2 linked regions of the Homo sapiens genome follow. The protein of the gene in region 2 purifies or fractionates together with the protein of the main gene of each other region. This does not show direct contact. Each region holds a gene or a part of one and is shown on either strand. Other genes may lie near its edges.

The links. Proteins that work in one complex are often made in the same cells at the same time.
Region 1: the proteins of ATL3 (region 2) and RTN4 purify together in Homo sapiens (affinity purification with mass spectrometry; 6 studies listed by BioGRID and IntAct, with this or other methods). This does not show direct contact.

What each region holds. Positions count from the first base shown.
Region 1 is NC_000002.12:55,040,431-55,047,460, forward strand, and holds part of RTN4 (reticulon-4), read right to left. Parts: intron 6,897-7,030; exon of another isoform or gene 6,386-6,896; intron 1-6,385. UniProt on the Homo sapiens protein: Required to induce the formation and stabilization of endoplasmic reticulum (ER) tubules. They regulate membrane morphogenesis in the ER by promoting tubular ER production.
Region 2 is NC_000011.10:63,626,365-63,633,394, reverse strand, and holds part of ATL3 (atlastin-3), read left to right. Parts: intron 1-297; coding exon 298-369; intron 370-572; exon of another isoform or gene 573-1,201; intron 1,202-1,923; coding exon 1,924-2,355; intron 2,356-3,989; coding exon 3,990-4,076; 3' UTR 4,077-7,030. UniProt on the Homo sapiens protein: Atlastin-3 (ATL3) is a membrane-anchored GTPase that mediates the GTP-dependent fusion of endoplasmic reticulum (ER) membranes, maintaining the continuous ER network. It facilitates the formation of three-way junctions where ER tubules intersect.

The DNA.
Region 1 (7,030 bases), on a different chromosome or scaffold from region 2:
AAAAAAAAGTTGTAACACTTTTAGGTCACCTCCATCTACGGTTGTCAGGGCACTGAGATAAATGAACTCAATAATGGCACCTTCCATTTAGGCGAGTTTATAAATCAACCTACAAAGTTGGGGAGAAAGAACACGTAGGCAGACCTGGAATCCTTAAGTAAGCTTCTCTCTTTCCACAAAAGCAGTTCACAGATCTGTAAATATGTCCTGTAAGGCCAATCACAAAACTCCTCTGGTTTTAAGAGCAGAAAATTCTTTACAACTAAGGGCCTGTATTTTTTCCTTCATCTGCTACCTATACCTCTCATAAGTACAACCTCTATTCATCTTTCTTGTCCTCTTACTCAGCCCTAGGCCTAGTTAAAAAAAAAAAGGAATATATTAATTTTTTTCTTAATATTGAACTTCCAAGAGACCACCAATATAAGCAGCAACTCCAAACTCTTGAACAACAAAACTTTATAAACTTTCTGTATCTGTGGTAACAATTCCATCAATGAGAAAAACAAGCTATTAAAGAAATAATTATTTTTGAAAAGTAGAGGGCCACCTATGTAAAGAGACTGCTTTAAAAAAAAAAAATCCAGTATTTGGCAGCTATAGCTCCTAATACAAGAGTACAGAGAATATTTCTTTCTTTCTCAACACAATTTTTTTTTTTTTTTGGAAATGAAAAAGCAGGAAGACTTAGCTTTCTTTCTCAGTCAATTATCAATTGAAAAGAGAGAGCCAAATACCTGTATAATTCAGTATGTTACAAGGAGGCTAGAATATTTATTTTTAAAAGTCTCTAGTTCACCTAATTATATGCTAAATTTTTTTTAAATACATGTTAATAAAAACCACGTGTTTATGGAAAAATACACAATATCAACACCGAATGTATTTCAATTCTCCCCAAAATTAATCCATAAATGTAATGCAACCTACTAAAACTCCAACAGAGGGAGAGGGGACAAGATAAAAAAAATTTTAAGATGAAGTAGAAAATTATACACACATAAGATAGCCAAGAAAAATATTTATGGAAAAGCCGTTTAGCTAGTATTTAAAAATTATAGCACAACAGTCTGATACTTCTGTGTGAACTGACAGATAAATGGAAAAGCAGAGGAAATATTTCACCCATACTACAAGAATATGACAAAAATGGTACTTCAAAGTGGTTAAGAAGGATAATTCAAAATAAAAGGTATTGGAACAAATGGGAAATAATCTTGAAATATAAAATTATTTCACTACTTCACTCTCTAGAACAAAACAAACTGCAAATAAATCAAATAATTAAATGTTAAAATGAAATCATAAAAAGTATAAAAGTACTTACTAGGAGTAAACATGGGGGAAAATTTTTATGATCCTCAAGAAGGATTTTCTAAGGATTACATAAAACTCAATGACTTTTTTCACTTTTATGACTCAAAGTCATAAAAGAAAATGATAAATCTGACTACATAAAAATTTCTAAACAGAAAAACATACCATATGGTCAAAATACAAATAACAAATCAATAAAAAGTTTTCAAGACATATGACAAAAGGCTAGTTTCCTTACAATGCAGATTAAGTGAATCTACATACATGAGACCAAAAACCCAAAAGAATAGGCAAAAGCTGTGATCAGAAAAAATTTGACACCTAAGCCTATGAAAAATGACTCAAATTTAAAAGAACAATTTGCTAAACAATGTATTAGTTCACTAATATACTGTGTTGGTAAAGATATAAGGGAAAAGGTACCTTAACAGGTTGGTGGGAATAAAGGTTGGAACCATTCTTTGAATGACACTTTGGCATTAGCTACCAACATTTTAAATGCAAATATCCTTTGAAGCAGTAATTCTACTTGCACAGATTTATCCTACAACATATATAATGGCATGTATTCCCAAAGAAGTGTATACAAGAGTGTTCACAGAAATAGTATTTGTAAGAGAAAAAACTAAGTATCAACCTAAATAACCATCAATAAGGGACTGATTAAATAAAATATGGTACATCCCCAGAGTCCTCTGCATCTATTTTTGTGGAAAATAAAGTGAAAAGGATATACATGTATAAATAAATATTTATCCACAGATTATCTCTAAACAGATACTCAAGAAACTACTAACAGAGGGTGGATCTACAGAAGACAATTTGTGGAAATCTGGGTAACAGGTAGAAAGAGTTACTTTTCTGTGTATTCTTGTAGTACTGTTTGGAATTGTTACCTTGTATACATAAATAAATAAATGCTTTCGTAAGATTTGGGATTTTTATTGAGAGAAGATATTATAGTAATTCTAGAACTATACAGAATATGAAGATCAGCATCTTTCTCATTCAACAAACTGAGTGCCTATCACATCTAAGGCACTGCAATGCAGACACAATGCATACAGTCCTTTTCCTCAAAGAAAAAGGTCACAGCACCTTTCCTCAAGGAGTACACTGTCTGGTGGAGGAAAGAAATCAGTAACCATACCATTACCTTATATAGAATGATATATACTATGAAGAGGTAAGAACAGAATATTATGGAAACACGTGATGAAAGCAACTTAAAAATCAATGATCATCATTCCAAGAAACATAAATATCAATAGCTTAAATATGAAATTATCAACTCCTCCTTTGGGGTTAAAAAGGATGATGATGGCATTAGTCTGAGAAAATCTTAGCATCAGTAAAGCTGGGTCTCATCATTTTGCATACCTATGTCCTGCACTAGCTATCCACAAAGGTCACATTCATTCAAACACTACTGAGAACTATGGTTTTACCATTACAGTTCCCATCCCTAGTGCTGTCATCCTCAGAAGAACCTGATCCCTTTAGAAACAGGAACAAAAAGTCTCAAAGAATGTACCATAAGTATAGTATATCTGCAACATTTACTTCTATTTATTTAAGGGTTCCAGGGAAGAATCAAGAAATAGCCATTCAGTTTATACTTTTATCCTGGGCTAGCAAAGTACCTTAAAAAGGAACCATTAAATTGAGGCTTTGAATCAAGTTATTCTAATAAGTTGCTTGAAGGTATATTATGAAAATAAATGGCGGGGCACAGTGGCTCACACCTGTAATTTCAACACTTTCAGAAGTCGAGGTGGGAGAACTGCTTGAGCCCAGGAGTTCAAGACCAACCTGGCCAACATAGTAAGACCCCATCTTTAAAAAAATAAAAATAAGGCTGGGAGCAGTGGCTCACACCTGTAATCCCAGAATTGTGGGACACCGAGGCAGGTGGGTCACCTGAGGTCAGGAGTTCAAGACCAGCCTGGCCAACATGGTGAAACCCCGTCTCTACTAAGAATACAAAAATTAGCCAGGTGTGGTGGCACATGCCTGTGGTCCCAGCTACTCGGGAGGCTGAGGCAGGAGAATTGCTGGAACCTAGGAGGTGGAGGTTGCAGTGAGCCAAGATTGCGCCACTGCACTCCAGCCTGGGCTACAGAGCAAGACTCCACCTCAAAAATAAAATAAAATAAAAATAAAAATAAAAATATATTTAGGCTGGGTGTGGTGGCTCACGCCTGTAAACCCAGCACTTCGAGAAGACTGCTTGACCTCAGGAATTTGAGCCCAGCCTGGGCAACATGGCGAAACCCTATCTGCACGAAAAACACAAAAATTAGCCGGGCGTGGTGGTACGTGCCTGTGGTCCCAGCTAGTTGGGAGGCTGAGGTGGCAGGATCACTTGAGCCCAGAAGATGAGGCTGCAGTGAGCCAAGACTGCACCACTATACTTTAGCCTGGGTGAAAGAGCAAGACCCTGTCTCCAAAATATAAATACATAAATATAAAAGTTTTTTTAAAAAATTTTAAAAATAGCCAGCATGGTGGTGTGCACCTGTAGTCTCAGCTACCTGGGGGGCTGAAGTGGGAGGACTGCTTAAGCCCAGGAGGTCAAGGGTATAGTGAGCCATAATCATGCCACTGCACTCCAGCCTGAGCGACAGAGTAAGACTCTGTCTCAAAAGAAACAAACAAACAAACAAACAAACAAAAAAACTTGCCAGGCATGGTGGCTCATGCCTGTAATCCCAGCACTTTGGGAGGTCCAGGCAGGAGGATTGCTTCAGGCCCCAAGTTTGAGACCAGCCTGGACAAAAGTGAGACCATTGTTTTTTGGTTTTTAGATTTTTAAAAAGAAAATAACTACACATAAAACAAAGCCAATTAATGGACAATAGGTAACATGCTCCTTTTCAGAAATGTTTTTATAACATGGCAAATCCTTTAAGTTTACAATAATATAGCACTAAAATAGCATGTTTTCTAAACACTATTCCATGCAGTTATTTATCAGTGGTTCCACATATACCCATCACTTCATTTTAAAAAGGATTTGAGAGAGTTTGCAAATCACTAAAAAAAAAAAAAAAAAAAAAAAAAGACCACAAATTTGACACTCAGTTGCCCAGGAACCAATCTGAAACATAATTCACCATATCCATGAGGAGTATACTACTTATTCCCAACTTTTAAAAATAAGAAATGGCTTAACCAGAAATTATTCAGAATCACAAAAATGAAAGTGGGGAATGGACAGGGCATGACTTTCTTGTGTTTAGAAGCATCCACTTCCTGGGAACTTGGACTTTATATTAAGAACTGATACCTAATATTTAAACCATATGTCACTCAAAATCTTAAAATTTCTAATACATGCTACTACGCCAATAAAAATGATCATATAATAAATGGCTTCATGATAGTAAAAACTAGTAATTTTTAAGCCCCAACCCATAATCTGTATTTATGAGCAATATTCAATTTTATACAAATTTTCATGGCAATTAAATTTTGGCAGTCTCTGAAACTGATTTAATAAGCACTAATATTCTTTTCTTTGTCTTTACATTCATGGTTTCCAAGTCCTATCAATTCGTCTTTCATACAGCCTCTTCGTAAACTAACTATAAAAACAGATTCACAGCCAATTAAAGAAAGCGTGCTTCTTATACTCTTATATTCCTCCCTTCTATTCCATTTTCACTGAATGAACAAATAATGAAATAGTTCAGGCCCTACTCATCTTTCTCAGAACTACTGTAATAGCTTTCTAAATAATTCATCTGCTTTTCCTTCCCACCTATCTTGAATATTGTCACCAATTTTCTAATACTGCTTTCACGGTGCCTTGCCTCAGTTCAAATAACCTTCAATGGCTGTCTTCCCAAAGCCAAAAGCTCTAATTCGAGAAGGGGTGAAAAACAATAACTTTAGAAACAACAATTAAAAAAAACAATTTTGGTTTCATAATATAAATTACCAAAAGCAAGGGCAACTGGATAGCAGAGCATGGATTAAAGTGGAATGATAAAATCCAAATTCCTTAATTTGGCATTCAGTATCTTTCAGAATCCAGATCTACATATTTTCGGTCTTAATTAACCTTGGTTTAGAACATGTCCAGAGACCAGTTCGAAGTCACCCTTAATTATGTTTGCACTGCTCTCAAATCGATTTCTAGCCAGAGTTTTCTGCGCATATCCTCAAAGCCTAACTTAACCAACCACTAAGCCAAGTATTTTCCCATGAAAAATGGCCCTCAAGTGAGAGGTTTTAGTCTCACTTCAGTTACTGCATTGCGATGGAGATGCTCTGGGCACAACAGCAAACAGTAAAATTACAACTTATTAACAGATGAAAATCAGGGCTTACTCATAAATAACGTAAACAGCAATGTTAAACAGACAAGTGTCAGTGATCTAGAAACCCTCTCTTCCAGGCAGGCTAGTCTATGCTTCTAACCCTGCTCTGCACATTTCTCACCTTTGTCTCACATCAGTCCTCTCAGTAGCCCTGAATCTTCCAAACTTATTTTAGTTCCAAAATCACAATATAATTATTTAATAAGCATATTTTTATTTTTTTAAAAAGCTAAACATTTTTACCATTGCCTGTTAGAGACCCCCAATGATCTGGGTGGGTAAGGCCACCTCTTCACTCTCCCACTAGTTTTTCTCACTAGTCTTACACTAGATTCTCAGACACAAAGAGCTCATTCCTGCCTCAGGGTTTTGCCCTGAAGTTGCTTGGAAATGTTTTCTCTCTGCAGCTCAAATCTCACCTTCTAAGCCTGTCTTAGTGTCACCTAACCTAAAAAAGCCCCCATAAATCCCCATCATTCTCTATGCCATTATCCTGTTTATTTTCCTCATAACACCACTATTCTGGGTTCTTTATTTATGTGCTTATTATCTGTACTCTCCCAAGGGGGAGCATGTGTCTTGCTTATTGCTATACCCTCAAAGCTTAGAATAGATCCTGTCTCTTGGTAGGTAATCAATAATGGGTTGAATTAATGAACAAACTCTTGAATGCATTAAGAAATCCAGACACATTGAAAATGGTTAACTATCCACAACCATAATCACAATGTTCTTACACTTACTAAAAAAACTAAAGTTTCCCAATAGGTATCATCAATATGGAATTAGGGAACTCTGTAGAACAGGCAATATTCTTTCCCCATTGCCTTCCAACCTCAGCATTCCAACACACAAGATTCCAAGAGAGTGCTGTCACCCCCTGAATCCCTAATGTTCAAAGACAGAACTATTTTCTTTGTTCCCATACCAATACAAGATTAGTATGCTTTTGTCAATCATTAAACTTCCTGTGGCCAGGCGCAGTGGCTCATGCCTGTAATCCCAACACTTTGGGAGGCCAAGGTGGGTGGATCACTGGAGGTCAGGAGTTCAAGACCACCAGCCTGGCCAACATGGTAAAATCCCGTCTCTACTAAAAATACAAAAATTAGCCAGGCGTGGTGGCAGGCGCCTGTAATCCCAGCTACTCGGGAGGCTGAGGCAGGAGAATCACTTGAACCTGGGAGGCGGAGGTTGCAGTGAGCCAAGATTGCGTCATTGCACTCCAGCCTGGTGACAAGGGGGAGACTATCTCAAAAAAAAAAAAAAAAAATTCCTGTTTAAAAATATATTTCATATTTTTCTCTTACCTCAGTTTCCCTCAAGTATGTCTTTTTCATAAAGAAAAAGGAAAAGATTGAGTTACTCCTCATCTTCTAAGACCTTTA
Region 2 (7,030 bases):
ATAAATTGATGCAATGGAAATAATATTTTCCTTGAATTTTGGAGATTTAATTTTTGCTAAAGATTCTTATGTATAAGAATACATATTTCTATGTATATGAACTTCTACCTTTTTTTGGTAGAAAATTTGGCAGAAAAAGTGTATTCTATTTCATCAGTTGAACTATATGGAAATCTAGAAAAATAGAAGGTTAATAAAAAAGGAAGAATGGGGAATAGAGAAGATTTTTGTTAGGTTATTTGTGGAGGAATGTTAAAAGAGGAAGGATTTACAGTTCACGTTTTTCTCTCTTAAAAGGCCACTGCTGAAGCCAACAACTTAGCAGCTGCAGCCTCTGCCAAGGACATTTATTATAACAACATGGAAGAGGTACGTGGGACATACGCCTTATTCTGAAATATCTATAATCTGGGCATTGTTGCTGACTTCAAAAGCCCAACTTGATCCTACTTAATGTATCTTTAAGTGATGAGGCAATAAACTTATATTCAGGTTGTCCTGGTAACGGGGGCCTTCTAATTATTACCATTTCTTTGTTTGTTTGTTTGTTCTTGTTTTGTTTTGTTTTGTTTTGAATAGCAAATAGTTTATTGGTAAGTACATAGTTTCAATGGGAGTAATAAATTCACATGAGCAGGAGACAATAATCAAGTCAAAAGAATAAATGCTTACTAATCATCAGAAAATCTGTGGCCATTAAGGCTGGCACATAAAAATCCAAAATCACTCAGAGGCCGAATCTTAAAAGAAGATTCGTCCTCTTATTAGTTCATATGGAATAGGTCCATAGTAACTGGAATCTGTAGAATTCTGTAGATTTATCACCTTCTAACCAAACATGACCCACTGGGACATAACTGTAGCTTTTAAAGAAATCTGATGGACTAGTGGTGAGGATTTTGTCTCCTTCCAAACCAGTTACTCTTTTACAAATATTTGATGTTGGATCACTTGGGCTTTTTGCAATCACAATGTCACCTCTTTGGATACTATCAAAATGTCGACTAAGATTTTGTGCAAAGACAGTATCTGAATTTTGAATTGTAGGCTCCATTGATGGTCCAGAACACATGACAACACCACCAACGTATTCAGAAGCACAGTGAGCTATACAGCCATACTGAATAGCATAGCCAACAAGTCAGAAGGTTTCCCCAGAGCACCACGAAGCATAGTTCTATGTAGACTCTGCCACCATTGGTCATAGATCTGTTCTATAATTCATTTAATTTTTAGGGAAGTCGCAGGGCTTCCAGAAAAAAAAAATTAAAGCATGTCTCAAAGCGTATGTGGGTGATCCATGATTTCAGGAATCCTCGGGTCCCAAAGAACCCTGAGGACCCTCAACCAGGACACAGGTGGGCCTTTCTCACCTGGGCCCTGCAGAAGTCGACCGTTTGCTTTTGTTTTTTAGAGACGGAGTCTCACTCTGTCGCCCAGGCTGGAGTGCAGTGGTGCGATCTCGGCTCACTGCAACCTCCGCCTCCCGGGTTCAAGCGGTTCTCCTGCCTCAGCCTTCTGAGTAGCTGGGATTACAGGTGCCTGCCATCACGCCCGGCTAATTTTTTTTGTGTTAGTAGAGACGGAGTTTCACCATGTTTACCAGGCTGATTTCAAACTCCTGACCTCAAGTGATCTGCCCGCCCTGGCCTCCGAAAGTGCTGGGATTACAGGCGTGAGCCACCGCACCCGTCCCAGTGTCACTGCTCTTTCCAATTGATATTATCACCCTGGTTTTTTAAGTGTGCTTTTCAGAGGAAGTGAAACTAGACTTTATTGGTCTTAGTCATCTTTTAAAAGTTAACTTATTAATACATTGTTAACATCTTAAAACATTCTAATCCTTTCATTATCTTTTCATGTTTTATTTGGCACTTGTTTTTGAAGAGATCTTTTAACATATTGTTTCTTTGTTCTTTTTAGGTTTGTGGGGGAGAGAAACCTTATTTGTCTCCAGACATTCTAGAGGAGAAGCACTGTGAATTCAAACAACTTGCTCTGGACCATTTTAAGAAGACCAAGAAGATGGGTGGGAAGGATTTCAGCTTTCGTTACCAGCAGGAGCTGGAGGAGGAAATCAAGGAATTATATGAGAACTTCTGCAAGCACAATGGTAGCAAGAACGTCTTCAGCACCTTCCGAACCCCTGCAGTGCTGTTCACGGGCATTGTAGCTTTGTACATAGCCTCAGGCCTCACTGGCTTCATAGGTCTTGAGGTTGTAGCCCAGTTGTTCAACTGTATGGTTGGACTACTGTTAATAGCACTCCTCACCTGGGGCTACATCAGGTATTCTGGTCAATATCGTGAGCTGGGCGGAGCTATTGATTTTGGTGCCGCATATGTGTTGGAGCAGGTAAGTGGTGCTGCTGAAGAGCCTGAGGGTTGATAATGGGCAGATATTTGTGCTTCTGTTGTAAAATATCTCAGTTTGGAAGAATTTCATAGTGAAGACATGAGACAGTGGCCACTCCGTTGGCTGTTGTTTTCTGATAGACTGTATGTTTTATTATCCTTTAGGATATTAATATTTATTCTTAATATTTTGTTTCCATGTCTAAAAAGGCCCCCGCCCCGCTTTTTTTTTTTTTTTTTGAGACAAAGTCTCGCTGTGCTCTCTTGCCCAGGCTGGAGTCCAGTGGCATGATCTTGGCTCACTGCAACCTCCGCCTCCCAGGTTCAAGTGATTCTCTTGCGTCAGCCTCCCAAGTAGCTGAGACTACAGGTGTGTGCCACCACGGCCCGCTAGTTTTTGTATTTTTAATAGAGACAGGGTTTCACCATGTTGACCAGGCTGGTCTCGAACTCCTGACCTCATGGTCCGCCTGCCTCGGCCTCCCAAAGTGCTGGGATTACAGGTGTGAGCCACCGTGCCCAGCCCAAAAATAGCCCTTTAATGCAAAAACATTCCAACTTAGACATACTGATTGTGTTCCCCTTTGGCAACTTTTTTTTTTTTTTTTTTTTTTGAGACAGATTTTTACGCTTTTGCCCAGGCTGGAGTGAAGTGGTGTGATCTTGGCTCACTGCAACCTCTGCCCACTGGGTTCAAGTGATTCTCTTGCCTCAGCCTCCCAAGAGTAGCTGGGATTATAGGTGCCTGACACCATGCCCAGTTAATTTCTGTATTTTTTTTTTTTTTTTTAGTAGAGACAGTGTTTTGCCATGTTAGCTAGGCTGGTCTTGAACTCCTGACCTCAGGTGATCCACCCACCTCGGCCTCCCAAAGTGCTAGGATTATAGGCATGAGCTATTGCGCCTGGTCGGCAACTTCTAATTACATGCTCTTCAGACATAATTTTTATGTGATTCTCACTTCTCACCCCCTCTAGATTAATTTACTTCATTGAAAAGCAAGAACTTTGAAAAAATTATGAACTTAACGAAAAATGTTCGGTTTTGAGTCCTACTGGATTAGGAAAGGGATGGTATCTTTTTTATTTAAAAATCTTCCAAAAGCCAGTGGCTTGGTTATTTATTTATTGGGTTGCTTATTTATTTATTTATAAAATTTTTTTTGGAGACGAGGTCTTGCTTTGTCACCCAGGCTGGTATCTTAGCTCATTGTAACTTAAAACTCCTGGGCTCAAGTGATCCTCCCACCTCAGCCTCCCAAGCAGCCGGTGTTACAGGCGAGTGCCACCACACCTGACTAACCCAGTAGCTCTTGGACATTGACATGGTCACAAGTTTTGTAGATCTTTGAGATGATACATTTGTTTTTCTGAGTAACATGAACAGGTGAGTTGGGTTAGCAGCTTGTGAAGCCACAGGAGCTGCCTATCCTACCCTAGCCACAGAGCAGATGTTCCCCTGGCTCTCTTGGGAGTTAGCTGCTGCCACAGCCTCTCTGTATCCCTGCATTTTCATTCAACTGCTTTCTGTAACATGCCGATGATGGAGACAGGTTTTTGAAAGTTTAAGGACTTACTTTCTTGTTGCTGTGTTGTATTTTATTAACTTATATGTTGAATAAATGGACTTTTGCAGGCTTCTTCTCATATCGGTAATTCCACTCAGGCCACTGTGAGGGATGCAGTTGTTGGAAGACCATCCATGGATAAAAAAGCTCAATAGCATCTTAACGTGAAGATCAAACAAGAACACAACAAGCCCCTACTGATTTCTGGGTTTCTGCCACGGCCACAGGTTCATATCCAGAGGAATGGCAGATCTGAGACGATCCAGGAAGAGCTAAAACATGGCCCTGTAATAAATGAGCAGACCTCTCCTGTGGTTTCAAATTATTAAACACACTTCCATTTCTCTTGGAAGCATTTCTTTTCCTTGCTGTTATAGATGCAAGCCTGTGTCTATTTTCATATTACTCTGCTTTGTGCACTTTATGGAGGAGGAAGCTAGAGGAAAAATGGAAATGCAGCTTTTAAGTTCTTTATGTGCCACTTAGTGCCTTTTAAGATTGATTCCATGGTTTTGCACACACGATGGGGAGGGGATGGAGGATAACCTCATGAAAGGTGCCGTTTTCGGGTGAAACTTGACATTTCTTTTATACTTTACTCTTTTGAGAAGGATTCTTTTTTTTTTTTTTTTTTTTTTTGAGTTGGAGTCTCGCTCTGTCACCAGGCTTGAGTGCAGTGGTGTGATCTTGGCTCACTGCAACCTCTGCCTGCCGGGTTCAAGCAGTTCTCCTGCCTCAGCCTCCCAAGTAGCTGGGACTACAGGTGTACGCCACCATACCCAGCTAATTTTTTTGTATTTTTAGTAGAGATGGGGTTTCACCATGTTGGCCAGGATGGTCTTGGTCTCTTGACCTTGTGATCCGCCTGCCCGCCTTGGCCTCCCAAAGTGCTGGGATTACAGGCGTGAGCCACCGTGCCCGGCCAAGAAGGATTCCTTTTTTAAAAGTTTACAGAACTTGGAGAAACTTCAGAACTAAAGACTAACTGAAAATGATGTCATTACACTCAAAAAAAATTTACAATAGGGAATCCTGTTGCCACATAGTGTGGAAAAATCATGTCATATTTAAATATACCATACTCTGAAATGTGAGGTTTTTACCCAGTAGGCTGACAGTTTTGTTGCAACTTGCTCTATTTTTTTTTTTTTTTTGGTCCCTATAGCTTCTTTCTAGAAAAAGAGGCAAACGTGCCTTGAAAAGCCAGAGTGGCTCATAATAAAAGGAATGCGCTAGATACTTCAAGAAAAAAGCTAAGTTTAAATGAACCATGTGACCTCTGATAAGTCACTTGAACTTGTGCCTTGGTCAGGTTCACTGTAGGTTTACATATGTATGTATGTTTTACACAACTCTTGTAATTGTCATTTGAGGGGTTTTGTTTTTGAGAGTTCTGCATAAGAACAGAACTTTATTAAGGATTAGAGGGAAGATACAAATATTACTGCGTTTAATTGATGTCTAATTTCATGTGGCTTAGCAGCAATTAATAACCTGATTTAAGGTCTTTATTCAGAATGTTAATTTGCATTCTCTGCCGTGTCTAATGTTCTTAATAATGAAGCTAAAATTAACCCATTTTATTTAGTGAATTATCTATTTAATTTTACTTTGGCTAGTCTGGTAGCTTTAAGATAGCTTTGCCTTAGCAAGGATCAAAGTCCTACCCAAATATAAAAAATATCTAGAAGTATCTAAGAGTTCTTTTTTTCTATTTACCTTGATTAGGAGATAAAAGTTTTATCTGTTAGTTGCTTTTCCTTTTGGAATTATTGTGGATTTTAAAACTTAAAACTTGCCTGCAAGTATTTATATAAACATTCAGGTATATAAGCCTTAATTTCTAAGATAATTTAACTTTTGTTATGGGAGGGAGGTAAGAGTGTAAATTTTATATACATGAAGGTAAGATCTGAGTGTAAACTTTACATACATGAAGTATGAATGGAAGGTAGAAAAAAAGTCCCTTTTCGCATGTAATCTCTTTATCAAAGAATTTTCTTTTGACACTTTACCACTGAAGTATTTTTGTAAGTCCTAAATTCGCAGCATATTGTTTCATATTTATATGCCATCTTGCAAATAGTTCTTGCTATTTTATTCACTGCTGTTACACTTTAGAAAAATTCCAGCTTGTTTACTTGCATTTATCAGTGATGCCAACCAAGCTTTGACTGTTAACTTGAAAGCTTGCTTCTGAAATGTTGGTGCATTTTCAGGTGACCTCTTATCTCTCTGAAAGTTCATACCTATTAGCAGGCTCTGTAAATATTGACATACTTAGCTTTTAATACATTCTATAAGTAAATTTATAGATTTCAGAATAACTTAAAAAATTTAATGGTAAGAAGGGGTGATGTGTCGAAAACTCATACTAAAGTATTAGGTCACTTTAAAAAAAGTGATAATGTATGATTTAATGAAATCTTAAGATTCAGTTACTATTTAAATTCACCATTTCTGTTTTGGTCTTATAAAGAGACCTTGGTTTAATTATCCAGAGGAAGTCCTCTTCACCATTTTTTTTTTTTCTTAGTTCTGCTTCTGGAAAGTGTTTTATAAAGTTTTCTCAGTGAGGGTTCTTAAGAGTTTTCTTTGGCCTCTTTTCTCTCAACAGTAAATTGATGATTTTATATCAGCTTTTTCAATAAAAGATGCATTATCATTACTGGCTATAAATCATCCTGGGGAGATTTATAACCAGGTTAAAAATAATATCTTTTACTTCTCTCACCTTTTACTTGTGGTTCAGATGCTCAGACTGTGCCTGTTTGCGTCGTGTCTGTTGCTCTGCCGCTTTCCATGCAGGCATTTTTAATTTTACACAATCCTAACAATATATGGAACTCATTCCTATGAATATATAAAAGGAGGCTTCCAAAATTTTCTATTAAAATATTTCAGGATAAATTAAGTGTTGATAATTTGAAAAAATAATTTCAATGAGCTGCTTATAGTAAAAATGGTAGAATCAGAGTTTTCATTCTTTGAGAAATCTTTCTGTAAGATTGGCTCATAGATAAAATGAGACAAACTACTATGTATGATAAAACACCTTCAGAGTCATGCCTTGTTTTATTTTATTTTATTTTTTGAGACAGAGGTCTCG